Regions from separate parts of the Homo sapiens genome. Here region 2 is linked to region 1. Evidence: fine-mapped expression QTL. A gene starts in region 1. The other region holds a variant in brackets. All regions are shown on one strand. Distances are from middle to middle. Region 1 holds the start of ATF7IP (activating transcription factor 7 interacting protein). Region 2 overlaps ATF7IP (activating transcription factor 7 interacting protein).

Region 1 (9,262 bases):
TAGCCATATTTTTTTTATTTTTATTTTGGAGACTATCTCACTCCATTACCCAGGTTGGAGTGCAGTGGCCCAGTCTCCCCTCACTGCAACCTCCACGTCCCAGACTCAAGCGATCCTCCCACCTCAGCCTCTCAAGTAGCTGAGACCACGGGCATGCACCACCACACTGGGCTAATTTTTATATTAATTAATTAATTAATTAATTTTTGATTCCGAGTCTCACTCTGTTGCTCAGACTTGAGTGCAGTGGCACCATCTTGGCTCACTGAAACCTCTGCCTCCTAGGTTCAAGCGATTCTCCTGCCTCAGCCTCCCGAGTAGCTGGGATAACAGGCATGCACCACCACACCTGGCTAACTTTTGTATTTTTAGTAGAGACGGTGTTTCACCATGTTGGCCAGGCTGGTCTTGAACGCCTGACCTCAAGTGATCCGCCCACCTTGGCCTCCCAAAGTTCTGGGATCACAGGCATGAGCCACTGCACCCAGCCTAATTTTTGTATTTTTTGTAGAGACTGGTTTTGCCATGTTGTCCAGGCTGGTCTGGAATTTCTAGGCTCAAGTGATTCACCTGCCTCTGCCTCCCAAAGTGCTGGGATTACAGGCATGAGCTGTGCTTGCTCGGGAGGGCTATTTTTATCATCCCCATTTTATAGACTGGGAAACATTTGCGTAGAGAATTTCAGGACACTAAACAAGTAAGAAGTAGAGCCAAGGTTTCAATTCAGGTAGTAAGCCTTCAGAACCTGAAAGCACTAGATTAAGCTTCCTGTTTTATTATTTTGTACTCAGAAACTTCAGTTTTCCATTTCAATGGCTTTTCGGAGTTTATGCTGTTTTTCTTTTTTTTTCTTTGATATGGAGTTTTGCCCTTGTTGCCCAGACTGGAGTGCAATGGCATGATCACAGCTCACTGCAACCTCTGCCTCCTGGGTTCAAGCAAATCTCCTGCCTCAACCTCCCAAGTAGCTGGGATTACAGGCGTGGGACTAATTTTATATTTTTAGTAGATATGGGGTTTCAACATGTTGGTCAGGCTGGTCTCGAACTCCTGACCTCAGGTGGTTCACCTACCTCGGCCTCCCAAAGTGCTGGGATTACAGGTGTGAGCCACCGCGCCCGGCCTATGCTGTTTTTAAAAAGTTCTGTTTTCTTTGTTCAGTTGCTACAACTGAAATGTATTGGTTTATATTTATTATTTTAGTTTAGGTCTTTTTTTTTTTTCTTTTTTTGTGAGACAGGTTCTATGATCCTACTTTACTCTAGCACTTTTTCCTAGGAAAATTATATTTAGCCTGTATCATTTTAGCCTAAATATACCAATAAAAACATAATGGTAGATAAAATATGAAAATCCTTTTGTACTAACTGGTAAGTAGCTGCCCCATCCTACCACACCCTTCATACCACCAAGTCAGGCTCAGTCCCCAGCTGAAGAGCCTCTGGACCTCTTCAAGATCCTACAACTAAAGAATTAACACCTGACAAAATAGGGTGGGGGGAGGGAAGTCTTCAAGCCTGCTTCCATTCTGATTGGTCAGTGATATAGGGATTGATAAATATTTTAAATGTGGTCCTACCTAGAAGTCTTAAGTTCAGCTTTTTTCATTCTTCATTGTTTTTGTATTTTCTGTTATTTTCTAACTTGAATACTTTCTTTTGTACCTAGTCTGACAGCCTAGGTACAAAGTTCTACATCATAAGTCAGGTCAAGTATCACTTCCTCTGTGAAGTTTTCCCATATAGTATGAGGAAGATTTAGGTTCTCTCATTTTAGAATTTTTTTATGCTTAAGACATACCACCAAAATATTAATGATCTCATAATGTTTATCTGTATTTACAACTCTTTCCCCATGAGAAACAGTGTCATTTCCTTTGGGCATCCCCAGTGCCCAGAATAGTTTGTGAGACATTATAAATATTGTATTCATTGAACAAATCAATGAATAGTTGATTAGGTCAACCAGCGGGTTTGCATGGCTGAAGAGACTGTAACTGTGGTTGAGGATATCTGAGGAGATTCGAATCCAATAAAATTGTCTAGTTGGAGTCTTCAGGAGGCAAGTCTAGAATATGAGCATATCTAAGAAAACTGATAAATCTGTGGTTATGCTGAATTATTTTTCCATTTGCTATTAGCATGGATAATCAAGAATAGACTATCATAGGCCAAGCATGGTGGCTCATGCCTGTAATCCCAGCACTTTGGGAGGCTGACGTGGGCAGATTACCTGAGGCCAGGAGTTCGAGACCAGCCTGGCCAATATAGCAAAACCCCATCTCTACTGAAAATACAAAAAATTAGCCGGCCGTGGTAGAGTGTGCCTGTAGTCCCAGCTACTCAGGAAGCTGAGGCAGGAAAATCGCTGAACCTGGGAGGCAGAGGTTGCAGTGAGCTGAGATCGTGCTACTGCACTCCAGCCTGGGCAACAGGGCAAGACTGTCTTAAAAAAAAAAAAAAAAAAAGAAAGAAGGCCAGATGTGGTGGCTCACGCCTTTAATCCCAGCACTTTGGGAGGCCGAGGCGGGTGGATCATGAGGTCAGGAGTTTGAGACCAGCCTGGCCAAGATGGTGAAATCCTGTCTCTACTAAAAACACAAAAATTAGCTGGGCGCGGTGGTGGACGCCTGTAATTTCAGCTACTCAGGAGGCTGAGGCAGGAGAATTGCTTGAACCCGGGATGTGGTGGTTGCAGTGAGCTGAGATCACGCCACTGCATTGTAGCCTGGGCAACAGAGCAAGACTCTGTCTCAAAAAAAAAAAAAAGAATAGACTATTATAAAAATGATTCTTTTTTATATGCTTACAGAAGACATAAAAAGAGAAACATAATGGGCTCTAGTATTCCAATCCAATTTCTCTTATTATTATGGAGTGTAACATTTAATATCAATATTTCTAATTTTCTGAGCATCTACTTATAATTGAGCACTGATGTACTATGAAAATTATAATAAATAAATTATAATTGAGCATCTATAATTTATTGAGTATATGCTAAGGACTGTGCTAATGATGTTACAACATTTAGCGATTAAACAATGCAAATTTAATTGTGTTATATCCCGACTTAAAACCTTTTAAATGATTCCTCATTGCTGTCCCAATGAGGTCCAACTTTTAGGCAAAAAATTAATTAAATCATTTATCATGATAGAGATGACCTCTTCTAGGAAGGCTTTTCTAATTCTCTAGGTCTGGATTAGGTGATATTTCTTTTTTTTTTCTTCGAGATGGAGTCTCACTCTGTTGCCCAGGCTGGAGTGCAGTGGCGTGATCTTGGCTCACTGCAACCTCTGCCTCCCGGGTTCAAGTGATTCTCCTGCTTCAGCCTCCCGAGTAGCTAGGACTACAGGCGCGTGCCACCACGACTAGCTAATTTTTTTTTTTTTGTATTTTTAGTAGAGGCGGGGTTTCACCATGTTACCCAGGATGGTCTCGATCTCCTGACCTCATGGTCTGCCCGCCTCGGCCTCCCAAAGTGCTGGGATTACAGGCGTGAGCCACTGCACCCGGCCCTAGGTGATATTTCTAAAGGCCACCTTATATTTTAAGTAAATTGAATGGTTCCAGTTATAAAAATAAGTATTAACAACCCTATTCTAATTTCTTATTAGTTACAAAAATTTCTTGTTCAGTTTTCTGTCTTCTTCACTAGAGTACAGATTTCTTGAGGACAGGCACCTAACAGATCTACAACACAGTGATTGCTAAATAAATACTGAACCAATACATTCATATAATGAGAAGTTACATAAAAAAACAATAACCACACGGTACCATCTAATATTATTTTCAGGCTATTCTTGCCTTGCAAAACATATGTACTTTTATTCTTTTTTTTTTTTTTTTTTTTTGATAAGGGGTCTTGCTCTGTAGCCCAGGCTGGAGTGCAGTGGTGAGATCTTCGCTCACTGCAATCTCGGCCTCCCAGGTCCCAGTTCAAGCAACTCTCCTGCCTCAGCCTCCTGAGTAGTTGGGATTACAGGCACGCACCACCATGCCTAGCTAATTTTTGTAATTTTAGTAGAGACGGGGTTTCACTATGTTGGCCAGGCTGGTCTTGATCTCCTGACCTCAGGTGATCCACCCCCCCTCAGACTTCCAAAGTGCTGGGATTACAGGCCTGAGCCACGGCACCTGGCCAAAACATATGTACATTTATTCTATCATTTAGTGCTTCCAACCTAGTTCAACTATAGTCATGATTGCCATTATACAGGTGAGAAAACTGAGTAACACACTTATTCCGAGGAACCGGCAAGGAAGCTGCAGTAGTTGAACTTGAACCCAGATCTCTTAACCAGTAAGGCAGTGACTTGTCCACTACCTCCTGTGGAATTCATTAAAGGCCGACTCCCAGCATGAAATTGAATAAATGGGATGAATACAACTTCTGGTGAGAGAGTATGATAAAAAGTGCTTGCTCTGTTACCAAGCAACTGAAAGAAAGTATGTTTTTTTCATTCCTTCATTATTAATACAATTCAAAGTACATTCTGTGAATTTAAAACATAAATGATGAATAAATCAACATACTCCTGGCTTTTATGAAAATCTTTCCCTCTGCTCTTTAAACTCTCACCTACCTCCTTCCTTCTTTCTTTTCTAAGCCTCATAGAGGGCGCTCACAAAGTGCTACTTATTGATTGAGGAAGATCCACTCAAAAAACACACCTCACACTGCAACTGAGAGACGCAGCGCCACCACCTCGGGCTTCCTTCTCTTTTCCACGCAGGAGGCGGGGCCAATGTCCCTCATTCAAATAAAAAACCAGAATTTGCATGGGGAATGGCTAGTCCTTGAGCTTATTGGCTGATAGCACAGTGGGCGGGGTACATAGCACGACCCCCCGGAGCCCCGCCCATATTAATTTGCATAACGGCCCCGGCGCGTGCAAGGGAGAAGCGGGTTTGTTTTTGAATCTGCGGAGGCGGCGGCGGTGGCAGCGGCGGCGCGGCGACTGAAGCGCGCGAAAAGCTGAGGCGGCAACGTCGGGGACGGCTGCGCGGGACGGCTCTGTAGGAAGGAACTTGGTTCCCCCTCCCTCAGCTTCCGCCCCAAAAGGTATATGTGAATCCCAGGGGCTGTTAAAACCACATTTTCTTAAATTACTATTGTATTTCTGAAGAGTCAAGACCGCATTATGGCGGCTGCGGGAGTTGTGTCTGCGCCTGCGCGGTTGCGGAGCTGCGGGCGGCGCTGCATGGGAGCACGTGATCTTGCGGGGTCGGGCTCTAGCTGCAGTTGTGCAGCTGGCGGGGCGGTGGCTGCGCAAGCGCAATATTCATTTTCAAGATCTAATGTTCTTGTTGGACGCCATTTGGGTTCTAGATTTAATTTTCCTCGTTCTTGAGGGGTTTCTTTGTGTTAACCTTAAATTCTCACAATTTTCAAGAAAAACATTACTCTAATGTTGTACTCCTGGGCCGACCTCAAGCTCTTCTCTGTTTTTTCGATTTTTTGAAAAATTGTGGACTTAATTTTCTGTAAAAATGATTTTCATTTGTGGTTCTTGATTATAATTTCAGTTTTAAAGTATTACTGGATTCAGGTTTATATTTACGGTGGTAAAGATCAGCACCTAGTGGTGTTCTCACGGGAAGTGCATTTATTTGAACTGCATATTTGCAAATACATTTTTAACCCTATTTTTACCTGTTCTGTTATGGATGTGTGGAATGTTTACAAAACAGAAACAATTTTAGTTTTGGGAATATTGGGGGAACGGGAATAGTGGAAGAAATTACAGTATAATCGAAAATGAAATCTCAATCTGAGGATTATTTTGGTTTTAAATGTTTGATCCTAAGTAAATAAAGTTTTAATTTTAATCAGTTTGTATGTTTCTGGGCATTTGAATTTTACATGTTTTAAGTTTCTTAGGTGACTTGTTCATTACTGCTTCAGCTAGATTATTGTTACTTTTGAAATTAATCAACTCATTTTCTTAGCATTTTTGTTTGCTATGATATGTAAGCTATAACATTTATTTGGTAAATTTTTCTGATGAAGAATTCTAGAAAGAACATCCATTACCCTGAGGCCTCTTTGAAGAAAGTGGACCATTAATAAAAAAAATCTGTTTTTTTCTTTTAAACACTGTACTGTATGCATGTGTGTAAGATACAGTTGTGTTTGATTTTTTAATTGTAAGTGTGCTCCTGGTTTTATTAATAGTTTTTTAGGGAAGGTAATTATAAATATGCTACTGATTAGTTTAAAATGGTAGTGTCAACTATAGTTAAATCTTATGTAACACAATTGGGGGAAGTTATATAAGATTTGATATGATTCTCCCGTTGTGCAAATTCTTTCTTACTAAGCAAAGAAACTTGCAAATGTTTTCCATAGACTTCATTTGTGGTTCATATATACAACAACTGGTTTCTTGGTTGGTTATAACTCTTTAAGTTTGAATCAGTCTACTGTCAAATGAAGACGTGCCTCTTGCTTTATAATCTCGGTTAATTTAGGGAAATTTTTATTGCCTAAAACAAATACCATTAGTAAATATTACCTAGATGTAATTGAAAGTAATACTTTTGGTTGGTGGATTTTTAAATGACGTCACATATGAGATAGAATGGAGGTAGGAAAGATTCTTCTTTTTTTCTCAAGAGAATATTTGACCTGATGTAATTCTTGGATCTCTGAGGTCTTCTACACAGAAGTATATTTAGAGAGCAGTTGTGTAATTTTCTCCCTTTTATGTTTCTGGAGTGGTTACCTAGCAGCCCCTTTCTACCACATGCTATTTCAGGCATTTTCGAGTTGAACATACACATAAATATTTCGGTTAACAAAAGAACTTTGATCTTTGATCTTAGGGCATGGTACACTTTACATTTCCAGAAAAATGAAATAGTTTGGTGTATATAAGCGTATGTTTTCATTTGAATATACAGATGATTGCTTTTTAGGTTAATATTGAAGGTAGTAAGAGGTATTTGAAAATGCTCTTGAATATGAAGAACATATTTATTGATGGGACGATTTTGCTGTCATGTTTCTTACAAGGCAGATATAATCATGTAAACTTAATAAGATTAATTAATTGCCTGAACACCAACTATTTGTTTATTAGTACTTTGTCAATAACAAGTATATTTTAAAATTTTAGTTTGGTGGTTATGATGCCACAAAATTTTGACACATATCCAACATATATAAATATTAAGACTAGGTTACTCCAGGAATGAATACCAAGTTACTGAAGTTATTTAAAATCTTTGTAGTTTTGTAAATTTAAAAATTTATATGTAGTTTAGAAAAGACAGGTTTGAGTTATTAAACAATTAGAACTATTTTTTCTTTAAATTAGGTTTTGCATATGTGATAAATGTATTTAAATATTTTTAAACTTATTCATTATAGAACATTTGGAAAATATTGAAAATTAATTAACAATGCTTAGAAATAACCACTCTAAAGGTATTGGTGATTTGTGACTTCACTTTTCCATGATTGAGCAATCTATAAATGTTTATTAATTAGTTTTTCATTGGTACCATAATTTCATTTCTACTCTTTTAATGTTATGAGTATTTTCCCATTTCATTATTCTTCTAAAATATGTCTTTAAATGGTTGCATGATACTTTATTATAATATCCCACATGATCAAATGTTCTTTTTAAACACATTTTAAAATGGTTACATATTATTGTTATCTCTAAGAAGAATTTACTGTGATTTATTAAACCTTTCATTTTTTGTTTCCTGTTTTGCTTTTTGCTCATTTCTCTATTAAAAATAATGCTACAGTGAACGTTCTTGTACTATACCTCAGAATATTTCTTTGAAATTACTTTCAAAGGACTTTTAAAGTAATTTGCAAAATTGATAAAAACTTTTTTTTGAAAAGCATTTTTTATCATATTCAATACCACCATCAATTAGATGGGTGAAAAATAGTAGCTCATTAACTTTTTTTGATAACTAGTGAAGTTGAATTTGTTATTGTTTTATATATGCATTTTTTTCATTTTCTGTGAATTAGCTGTTTGACTTTTTGTGTATTTTTCTATGATGAGTGTTACTGTTTTTCTTATTTGTTGGTAACAGCTACTTACGGCTTTGGGGTCCTTAGCTTTTAATATTTGTCACAGTAATTTTAAAATTACCTTTTAAGTGGTTTATGATTGTATATGTTAAGAAGTTTTGCATTTTTATGTAGTAAAATGTACTGCCCCCCTTTTTTTTTTTGAGATAGGATCTTGCTCTGCTGCGCATGCTAAAGTGCAGTGGCAGTGATCTCTGCCCACTGCAGCCTCGACCTCCCAGGCTCAAGCAATTCTCCCACCACTGGAGTAACTGAGACTACTGGTGAAGGATATCACACCCCGCTAATTTTTTCTTTTTTTTTTTTTTTTAATAAACAAAGCCTCATTATGTTGCCCAGGCTGGTCTTGAACTCCAGGGGTCAAGAGAGTTTCCCACTTCAGCCTCCCAAAGTGCTGAGATTACAAGCATGAGCCACCATGTCCAGCCTGTACTGCCTTTCCTTTTTCCTTTATGATTTCTACAGCACTTGTCTGCCCAGAAAATATTACCTGTTGTAAGGTGAATTGTATGTTTATATTGTATTTTATTTTATTATTATTGTTTTTTGAGGTGGAGTCTAGCTCTGTCTCACAGGCTGGAGTGCAGTGGTGTGATTTTGGCTCACTGTAACCTCTTCTTGGGTTCCAGCGATTCTGCTACCTGAGCCTCCCAAGTAGCGGATTACAGGCGTGCACCACCATGCCCTGCTTTTAGTAGAGACGGGGTTTCCCCGTGTTGGCCAGGCTCGTCTTGAACTCCTGACCTGAGGTGATCTGCCTGCCTTGGCCCCCACAGTGCTAGAATTACAGGTGTGAACCACCGTGCACAGCCTTGTTCATGTGTTTTGTTAATTTTTTACTAGAACTTTTTCTGGAAGTTTTAATAAACTTAAAAAATACTTTTACATCTATGTGGACATATCTGTGTTTTGACATATTGTGTGTTAAGATAAGTTGCTAGTTTCCATTTTTTTCCAGATATCTAGTTTCCATAGACTTGATCCATTTCTTATTGCTTTGGTAGCAAACAATTCTGATTCATATACTAGGTATATTTAACCTGGGGTCCATTGTCCTCTAGGGGTTCCACCGATCCCTTGATATACACAATTTTATGTAAGTCTGCATATGTTCATTTTTTTTTTTTTTTGAGATGGAGTTTCGCCCTTGTTGCCCAGGCTGGAGTGCAATGGCACGATCTCAGCTCACCGCAAC
Region 2 (9,262 bases), 70 kb after region 1:
TACTGTCTAGTCTGCTTGAAAGGAAAGAATATGGAACTATGAAAACTTGCCAAATTGTGATAAGGCTATAGCCTTATCCTCAAGAAAATCAAAGGAATTATAACAGAAACTTATCTGTAAGTAAGGACAGATTCTAAAAAAAACATTCTTTTTTTTTTTTTTGAGATGGCGTCTCGCTCTGTCACCCAGGCTGGAGTGCAGTGGTGCGATATCGGCTCACTGCAAGCTCCGCCTCCCGGGTTCAAGCGACTCTCCTGTCTCAGCCTCCCGAGTAGCTGGGACTACAGGCATGTACCACTACATACAGCTAATTTTTTATATTTTTAGTAGAGACAGGGTTTCACCATGTTAGCCAGGATGGTCTCGATCTCCTGACCTTGTGATCCGCCCGCCTCGGCCTCCCAAAGTGCTGGGATTATAGGTGTGAGCCACCACACCCGGCAGTAAAAAAGACATTGTTAACCTACTATTTGGATGAGTTTCAGGAGTCCCAGGAACTACCTGAAATTATGTCTAAAGTTGTCTGTGTACCAAGGGCCTTTGATTATTACTCTGGGTTGAAGGAGACCCATTCTTAGTTTTTCTTCAGGCTTTGTGGACAAAATAAAATTAAAGAAATATAAGGCCCTACCCGTCTCTGTAGAATTTGTTAATACCATTTTTTAAATCCCAAGTTCTTTCCGTTACAAAAAACTCTAGCAACTCTATTTTAATTCTGTGAATTCTGAGTGTTTTAAGTGTTGGGGATCCAGTAATATCTTCTAAGCATATCTGGAAACTGGGAGTTGGGTGATAGGAGGAGGTTTTTGAATAAAATGAAGAAATCTCAAGCTGAGCTTGACATATGGAGAGGAAACTAACATGCGTATAAAAGAGGCAAACCATAGCAGGCCAGTTTATTCTGCTGTGTTCTGGATGCTCTGGCTTGGAGTCACTCTAATTGGAGCCATGGCTAATTTTGTGCTTTGTGCGATGTGAGGATTTGCTAAATAAAGACTATGTAAACCTTTCATCTCAAGCATCCCAGTTACTCTGTCTCTCTGGAAACTCTGGGGACTAGGAAGCTCAGGAGTTACTAACAATGAGTATTAAAATCAGAAAGATATGGAAAAATATAGAAAGAAAAATGTATTTTAATGAGTTTGTGATCTGTTTACAAGAAAGCAAACAAATTTTTATTTCACTGAAACTGAGGTTGAGAGATGAGGTCTTAAAACACTTAAAATGAGCAAAGGGTAGTAAATGGAGAGTTAATTTTCAAATAATTTATTTTAAAGTTCAAAAATAGTTTTAGTAATTCTGTGTACTGTGTTAGCTTATTGTTTATCTTACAGTGAAAAAAATACTTCTAGCGCCTTAATAGGTATTCATCAATGATCCTTGTCCTTGCCTATTTTCACCTAAAATATCTTTTAAATTTTTTTAACCTTGACTTTTGCTATTAGGGCTGTTGTGATTAAAATCCTGATGATTGGAGAAGAAATGTCTTATCAGAATCTTTATATAGCATAATATACTTTATGATTGTTTATTTAATATTAGTTGCAGAACGTGATGAAACATAGCATGCTTTATTGAAGCCACTGAGAAGCAAGTTGCAATGACGTAAGGGGGAAAATAGAAGTCAAACATCTTAATGAATTTTTTTTTGTAGCTCCCTTATTCCTCATTTAATGAGTAGGTTAGTTGAAGAGACATTGATTGATTGACCAAAAGAACGTTTTGGTACCTCTTGGATTTTATTTAATATAATTGTATAGACATTTTTAGCAATATCTTTTGGCAGCACTCTTCAGTTGTTACATTTTATATGACTCATGCAAATTAACCCTTCTGGGCCAGTCGAGGTGGCTCACGCCTGTAATCCCAGCACTTTGGGAAGCTGAGGTGGGAGGATCACCTGAGGTCAGGAGTTTGAGACCAGTCTGCCCAACATGGTGAAATCCTGTCTCTACTAAAAATAAAAAAAATTTAGGCCCAGTGCAGTGGCTTATGCCTGTAATCTCAGCACTTTGGGAGGCTGAGGGGGGTGGATCACGAGGTCAAGAGATGAAGATCATCCTGGCCAACATGGTGAAACCCTGTCTCTACTAAAAATACAAAAATTAGCTGGGCCTGGTGGCAGGTGCCTGTAGTCCCAGCTACCTGGGAGGCTGAGGCAGGAGAATTGCTTGAACCTGGGAAGTGGAGGTTGCAGTGAGCCGAGATTGCGCTACTGTACACTAGCCTGGCGACAGAGTGAGACTCTATCTCAAAAACAAACAAACAAATTAGCCGGATGTAGTGGCGGGTGCCTGTAATCCCAGCTACTCAGGAGGCTAAGGCAGGAGAATCACTTGAACCCGGGAGGCGGAGGTTGCAGTGAGACGAGATCGCCCCACTGCACTCCAGCCTGGGCGACAAGAGCGAAACTCAGTCTCAAAAAAAAAAAAGAAAAGAAAATTAACCCTTCTGAATGTTTTCCTCATCTATATGATGACAAAAAATACAGTTTACAGTGTGAGATTATATTGTGGCCATGTGATAACTATATTAAGCACCTAGCTCAGTTGTTGGCACTGTTATCAAAGTAGGTATATATTTAAAGTTTTTATTATATTTGGGATAGCCTTTCCATTCCTTATTTATGAACTCTCTATACCATAAGCATTAAAGTAACTTAAGGATTCAACCTGTTTTGAATTTTCCAGTAGTTTGGAATTTTTTTGATAATTGTCACAGGCACTATTTTAGTTTTAATTATTGAATGTAAAGGAATCAAAATGCTCTACAGCAGTTGTTTTCACATTTTATTAATGTTACTGGTGACAGAAAATTATTAAGTAATTTTTTTAAATTACTTAAAATCTATATTAAGATTAAATCCTGTGTTGAGTTTGTTCTGAATTGCAGAACAGTTGAATGTGGACGTGGTCATTCATTCGATCAGTTCCTGCTCCCCTTTTCCCCTCCCCAAATTTTACATTTTGGGACTCTGATTTCATAAAAGGTTGGTTTTGTAACTGGATAGTGACTAAAAATGTAAATTAGTGAGCTGTTATGAATTCTAGTAGAAGTAAGATTTTCTTTTCTATATTTGTTAACAGCAGAAGTAGAAAGTAATGAAAAGGACAACAAACCTGAGGAAGAAGAGCAAGTAATACATGAAGATGATGAAAGACCTTCTGAGAAAAGTATGCATGTATAAACAAACTTGAACTGGATTGAAAAATAATAATTCACTGTTTCTATATTTACAACCGTGTAATATTCTTTTTTGCCCATGAAATAATTGTAAAATTTTGCAATTTCACAACTATACCATTTTGTTGATGGCTAACTGAAGGATTTCTGAAAGTATGTTTCATACACTTCAATATTTTATTTTGTTTATTTATACTTTTTATTGTTCCACAGAAAGATTTAGCTTAAAATTTACTAAGTTACTGAGTGTTTTGAGATAAATTGTTTTAGATTTATGTTTAGAGAATGAAACTACAAGAATTTTGTATGGGCTAACGTAAGTGAATGGAAGGATGTATTTTAGTTCACTTAAGGTTCTTCATCTTCATGGGGCCAGATGTAGTGGCTCACCCCTGTAATGCCAGCACTTTGGGAGGCCAAGATGGAAGGATTGCTTGAGGCCAGTAATGCAAGACCAGCCTGGGTGACATAGCAAGAACCTGTCTCTACAGAAAAAATATTTGAATTAGCCAGGCATGGTGGCACACACCTGTAGTCCCAGCTACTTTGGAGGCTGCAGTGGTAGTATTGCTTGAGTCCAAGAATTTGAGGTTCCAGTGAGCAATGATTGAGCCACTGTACTCCAGCCTGGGTGACAGAGTGACACCTTGAGAGAGAGAGAGAGAAGGAGGGAGGGAGGGAGACAGGAAGGAAGGAAGAGGGAAGGAAGGAAGGAAGGAAAAGGGAAGGAAAGATAAGGTTCTTTAGCTTTATGGGAAGGGAAGGAAATGATGGACTGAGTGTCCTTAGGTTTATGGAAAGATCATTGGACTAGAAGTCAGGAAAGCTGGGTTCAGTAACTTTCCTGTCATGCTGCTATCCATATATGACCATGGGTAAGTTAAGATTGTAAGAGAAATTGTAGAATAGAGTGGATTTACAAGTAGGCATATAGATACAGACACATACAGAGGGATAGGCATGGTCACATAAGAGCATTTGCGTTTAAAAAGTGTGAAGATATTAGTGTTTTAATTTTTTTAGATATTGAAGAAGCCAGATACAAATTTGCTTATGATCTCATGAATATTAACAGCACGTGAAACAGATTTTCTAAGTGAAGTCTTCTAGTCTATATTCTTTATAAATGTACTTTTAATGACATTAATTTTATTTTTATTTGAAATTCATTAGGATATGTTAAGAATAACTATTACTGTGCTAGTTTTGTAAGGCTGATGATTAAGAATTTTTTCCTATACTTACGGAGGAAAAAGAATAAATAATTAAAGCTGTGCATAGTTAAAAATCTGACATGAGAATGAATACTATATTTTGTCAGAGGATTCATGTGCACTGTGACATTTAGTTACAGGAATGAATATGAGATGATTTCATCTACCTTCTTCATGACACAATTGTGAGGCAGTTCTTAGTATGAAGATTTCAAGGAAATTCTGTGTT[C/T]ACAGTGTGCATTGCTTGACCATTAGGGAGTTCTTATTTAGTATATTGAAAGTCATTTGAAGTTTAAAGCTAAAAGCTATATACCTTCTAAGATCTCCAAAACAGTTTACAAAATAGTTGGTTGAGAAGGCTATTATGATAGAAATAATATTTTGCTAAGGATGGATAATATGCATTAAGAGCTATAAGAAAAACACCTGAGTGTGATCATTGTGGTTTTCCTTCTCAGATGAATTTTCTAGACGAAAACGTTCTAAATCAGAAGACATGGACAATGTACAGTCTAAACGTCGTCGATATATGGAAGAAGAATATGAGGCAGAATTTCAAGTAAAGATTACAGCCAAAGGAGACATTAACCAGAAACTTCAAAAGGTATTGTGTCAATTATAAGTTATAAACCATATTGAATAAATAGCACCACTATCTTCTTCTAGGTTTCTGACATTATTCTGTATTTTATTGACATAATGTGGTTTATCATAGAAAGAAAGAACTTGAAGAAAGTGGTTGAGCTTTTAAAGTCTATTACTGGCCAGATGTGGTGGATCACCCCTGTAATCCCAATCCTTTGGGAGGCTGAGGTGGATGGATCACCTGAAGTCAGGAGTTCAAGACCAGCCTGACCAACATGGTGAAACTCTGACTCTACTAAAAATACAAAAATTAGCTGGATGTTGTGGTGGGTGCCTGTAATCCCAGCTACCTGGGAGGCTGAGGCAGGAGAATCACTTGAACCCGGGAGGTGGAGGTGGCAGTGAGCCGAGATCATGCCACTTCACTCCAGCCTGGGTGACAGAGCAAGACTCCATCTCAAAAAAATAATAAATAAATAAATAAATAAGTCTATTACTATCCTTGATAATTTAATTTTAAAATTCTTTCTGACTTCTTTTTGGCTACATCTTTTTTTTTTTTTAAAAAAGGTTATGATTATCAAAACAAGGGAGAGAAGGTAACATTTTTATTTATTTGCTTTGGTAACAAAACTGAATGTTGTTTTTCAGCTTTTCTTTTTCCTTCTCACATTGAACTTTATCTTATTGTGAAAAGGAAATGTTAGAGTTTTAAATATTAGCATTTTAATCTTTATAAAGCTGGTTTCATGGTTATAAGTCTACATTCTAAACTCTTTATTGTGTACTTGAGGGTTAGTATAAAAGTGGTAGAGACAGGGTGTTAAAAGGACTAGAGAAAGGAGTATTTAGAATACGGAGTTTGAAATTCCCCTTACATCTGTTTGACTAGAGATAGAAATAATGAAAATATTCAGTATTTTATGTTTTTCAACATGTGTTCACAAATGTTTTTACAAAGCTTTTCTTAGAGAGGAATATTAAACTTCGATGATAACTAGTTTTTCAAGGTCTTATATATTTAAGGATGACATTTTACAATCAATGTTTTAGGACAAAATTCTTTCATTAAAATATAGCATACATATTTGCACTTTGTAGAAAAAAGAATAGTGAGGCTGTAGAAACTCTCAGTGTTGTTTTTTTCCCCTAGTTTCTTTTTATTTGACATATGGAGATAATAATGCTTATTCAGTCTTTCTTACAGAGCTGTTAGAATTATGAAGGTAGCTATGTGAAAGAATTTTGAAAACTGAGGTTTCCTGAGAGTTTACTTCTTTAGAACAGTGTTACTCAAGTATGGTTCATGGGTATGTGCCAATGTCTTTGTTGTGGACCCATAATGAGAATATGGAACTTTTTAAAAGTTTACTCTCTGGAAATTTTCTATTTTTAGTATGTATTACCCTCTTGAAGTAGATTTTATATATATAAAAGTAGAGGATTTTAGCAGATAGTATTGTGTTACAGATTCTAGCATGTTTTATTCATTAAGTTAGTTTGTCATTACTGTCTTCTTGGTACTTAAGAATATTTACTGGCCGGGCGCGGTGGCTCACGCCTGTAATCCCAGCACTTTGGGAGGCCGAGGCGGGCGGATCACGAGGTCAGGAGATCGAGACCATCCCGGCTAAAACGGTGAAACCCCGTCTCTACTAAAAATACAAAAAATTAGCCGGGCGTAGTGGCGGGCGCCTGTAGTCCCAGCTACTTGGGAGGCTGAGGCAGGAGAATGGCGTGAACCCGGGAGGCGGAGCTTGCAGTGAGCCGAGATCCTGCCACTGCACTCCAGCCTGGGCGACAGAGCGAGACTCTGTCTCAAAAAAAAAGAATATTTACTGTTTATTGCTTGCTGGAATGCCTTCTTGGCATAATGAAGGAATATTTGTTTCTTTAGGTTATACAGTGGTTGCTGGAAGAAAAATTGTGTGCGCTGCAGTGTGCTGTATTTGATAAGACTTTGGCAGAATTGAAAACACGAGTGGAAAAGATTGAATGTAACAAGAGGCATAAAACAGTTCTCACTGAACTACAGGTTTGTACATTGACTTGAGTTGTATACTCCATGTGTCATTGTTTTTATAACTTATTTTCTGAGATATATATTTGAGATTAACTATAAAATACATTTAAATTCTAAATGTAAGAAGGAAAAGGAGTTTGTTTAGTTTGCCAGGGCTGCTGTAAAGAAAGTGCAATAAACTGAGTGGTTTAAACAGTAGAAATATTCTGTCTCACAGTTCTGGAGGCTAGAAGTTGAAGATCAAGGTGTCAGCAGTGTAGATTCTTTTTGAGGGCTGTGCTGTGAGGAAGAATCTGTTCTATGCCTTTACTGTAGCTTCTGTTGGTTTGCGGACAGTTCTTTGGCATTGTAGAAACATCACCCTGATCTCTGGCTTTATCTTTACATGGTGTTGTCCTTGTATGTGTGTCTGTAAATTTCCCCTTTTTACAAGGACACCAGTCATTGGAGTAGGGGCCCACTATACTCCAACATGACTTCATCTTAACTAATTACCTCTGCAATGACCTTCTTTACAAATAAGGTCACAGTCTGAAATACTGGAAGTTTAGACTTCAATATGTGAACTTTTAGGGGACACAGTTCAAACCATAACGGAGACTCAGAAATTCCTGGATCTAACTTAGTGCTTCATATTTTTTTTTCCAGTCACTAAAGGAAGGCTGTCATTTAGCATGCTATAATAAGTACTAAATAATATTTGTTAGGGATTCTTTTTATGTTAATCTACCTCCTTTCGTGGACCTTATGTTTTAAAGATGTTAGTTTAATAACACGTATTTATTAATTTCTACTTGTCATTTTTTATTAAGTACAACTATATCTTAACATACAATACCAGAGCTTCTGGTCAGCTGAAATGAGCACACAGTAGTGTGCTGTAGTAATCTACTTTATTCCAAAGCTAAGAAGCTGGTATTTGAATCAGTACATTCATTCTGTCATAAGTAAGTGTATGGTTCCTATTGGGTTATTTTATATATGAGCATATCCCAAAGATGCTGAGTGGTAAACCATGTATAGGGCCTTATTTTGCAAATGAAGGAAAAGTGGCCCATGGAAGTCAAATCACTTTTTCCGTTACGAATAAAATTTTAGCTAAATAGGATTAGAATTTAAGTGTGTCTCCCAGACTGACCTATCTAATTATTAAACTTCATTTTACTAGTACTGTTCAGACTTTTGAATTAAATTTGAAAATGCCTGAAGATTTGAAAGAATAATTTTATTCATTGTTTCTCATCACACCCACGGGTGCAACTATGAAATTGTGTTTTTAAAACCTAAGTTTTTGGCTGGGCATAGTGGCTCACGCCTGTGAGCTCAGCACTTTAGGAGGCTGAGGAAGGTGAATCTCTTGAGTCTAGCAGTTAGAGACCAGCCTGGCCAATATGGTGAAACCCTGTCTCTACTAAAAATACAAAAAAATTAGCCGAGTGTGGTAGTGCATGCCTGTAGTCCCAGCTACTTTGGAGGTTGAGGCATGAGAATTGCTTGAACCTGGGAGGTGGAGGTTGCAGTGAGCTGAGATCGGGCTACTGCATTCCAGCCTGGGCAACAGAGTGAGACTCTGTCTCCAAAATAAATCCATCCATCCATCCATCCATCCATCCATCCATCCATCCATCCATCCTAAAACAGTTTTCGACACCTATCATCTCACACATAAGGTGCAATCCAGATTTCTTAACATTTAAATTTGTACTTAAATGTTGCTTGTAGTCTCAGAATTTGAATCTTTCTAACACCAAGCCAATCATCTTCTCTGCAAATGTTCCTGTTACTGACAATTTCTGAATTCTTGGAAAACTCTTGAAGGAAAATCTTCCCGTTGTTCCTCTTATTGGCAGCTCTTGAATTCTTGGAAACCGATCCCTCTCAATCATTTCATATACACAGTGAGTTGCCAAGTTACAACTTGATTATTTCCTAGAAAAAATAAATCTCAATTCTTTTCACTTTTCATTAGGCCATCATTACCCAATTCCTTGATTATAGTAACACCTTTTATATGAGCACTCTGGTACTAGTTTTTAAGTTCTTTCTGGTCCTTCCAAAGCATTGTACTAATTTTTCTAAAATACTGATTACTTCAGTCTCTTTATAGTCCAAGTTCCTCAATTGTGTACCGGTAAAACCAGTATTCATTTTTAAAATTTTTAAATTTTAATCTCTTAATTTTCAATCCACTTTTTCTAATATCCACCAGTTGCTTCACTGTCCTACAGGGTACTATTAATGTTTATTGTATTTTGAT

The links. PIP is the estimated chance that this variant, and not a neighbour inherited with it, causes the effect.
Region 2: its variant is the best candidate, but not a certain one, in a credible set for the expression of ATF7IP in whole blood (TOPMed, PIP 0.78).

What each region holds. Positions count from the first base shown.
Region 1 is chr12:14,360,758-14,370,019 of GRCh38, forward strand. ATF7IP (activating transcription factor 7 interacting protein) reads left to right here and starts at 4,925. Exons shown (of 15, transcript NM_018179.5): 1 at 4,925-5,070. It overlaps LOC124902884 (a long non-coding RNA gene), which reads right to left and starts at 6,433. Exons shown (of 2, transcript XR_007063220.1): 1 at 4,592-6,433. RefSeq lists enhancers at 4,506-5,323, 4,555-4,614, 5,085-5,144, 6,501-6,640.
Region 2 is chr12:14,431,251-14,440,512 of GRCh38, forward strand. ATF7IP (activating transcription factor 7 interacting protein) reads left to right here. Exons shown (of 15, transcript NM_018179.5): 3 at 3,087-3,173; 4 at 4,856-5,001; 5 at 6,880-7,017. Among named protein-coding and RNA genes, the nearest start is that of ATF7IP, 70 kb to the left of the region's middle. The variant C/T (reference allele first, on the strand shown) is at 4,627.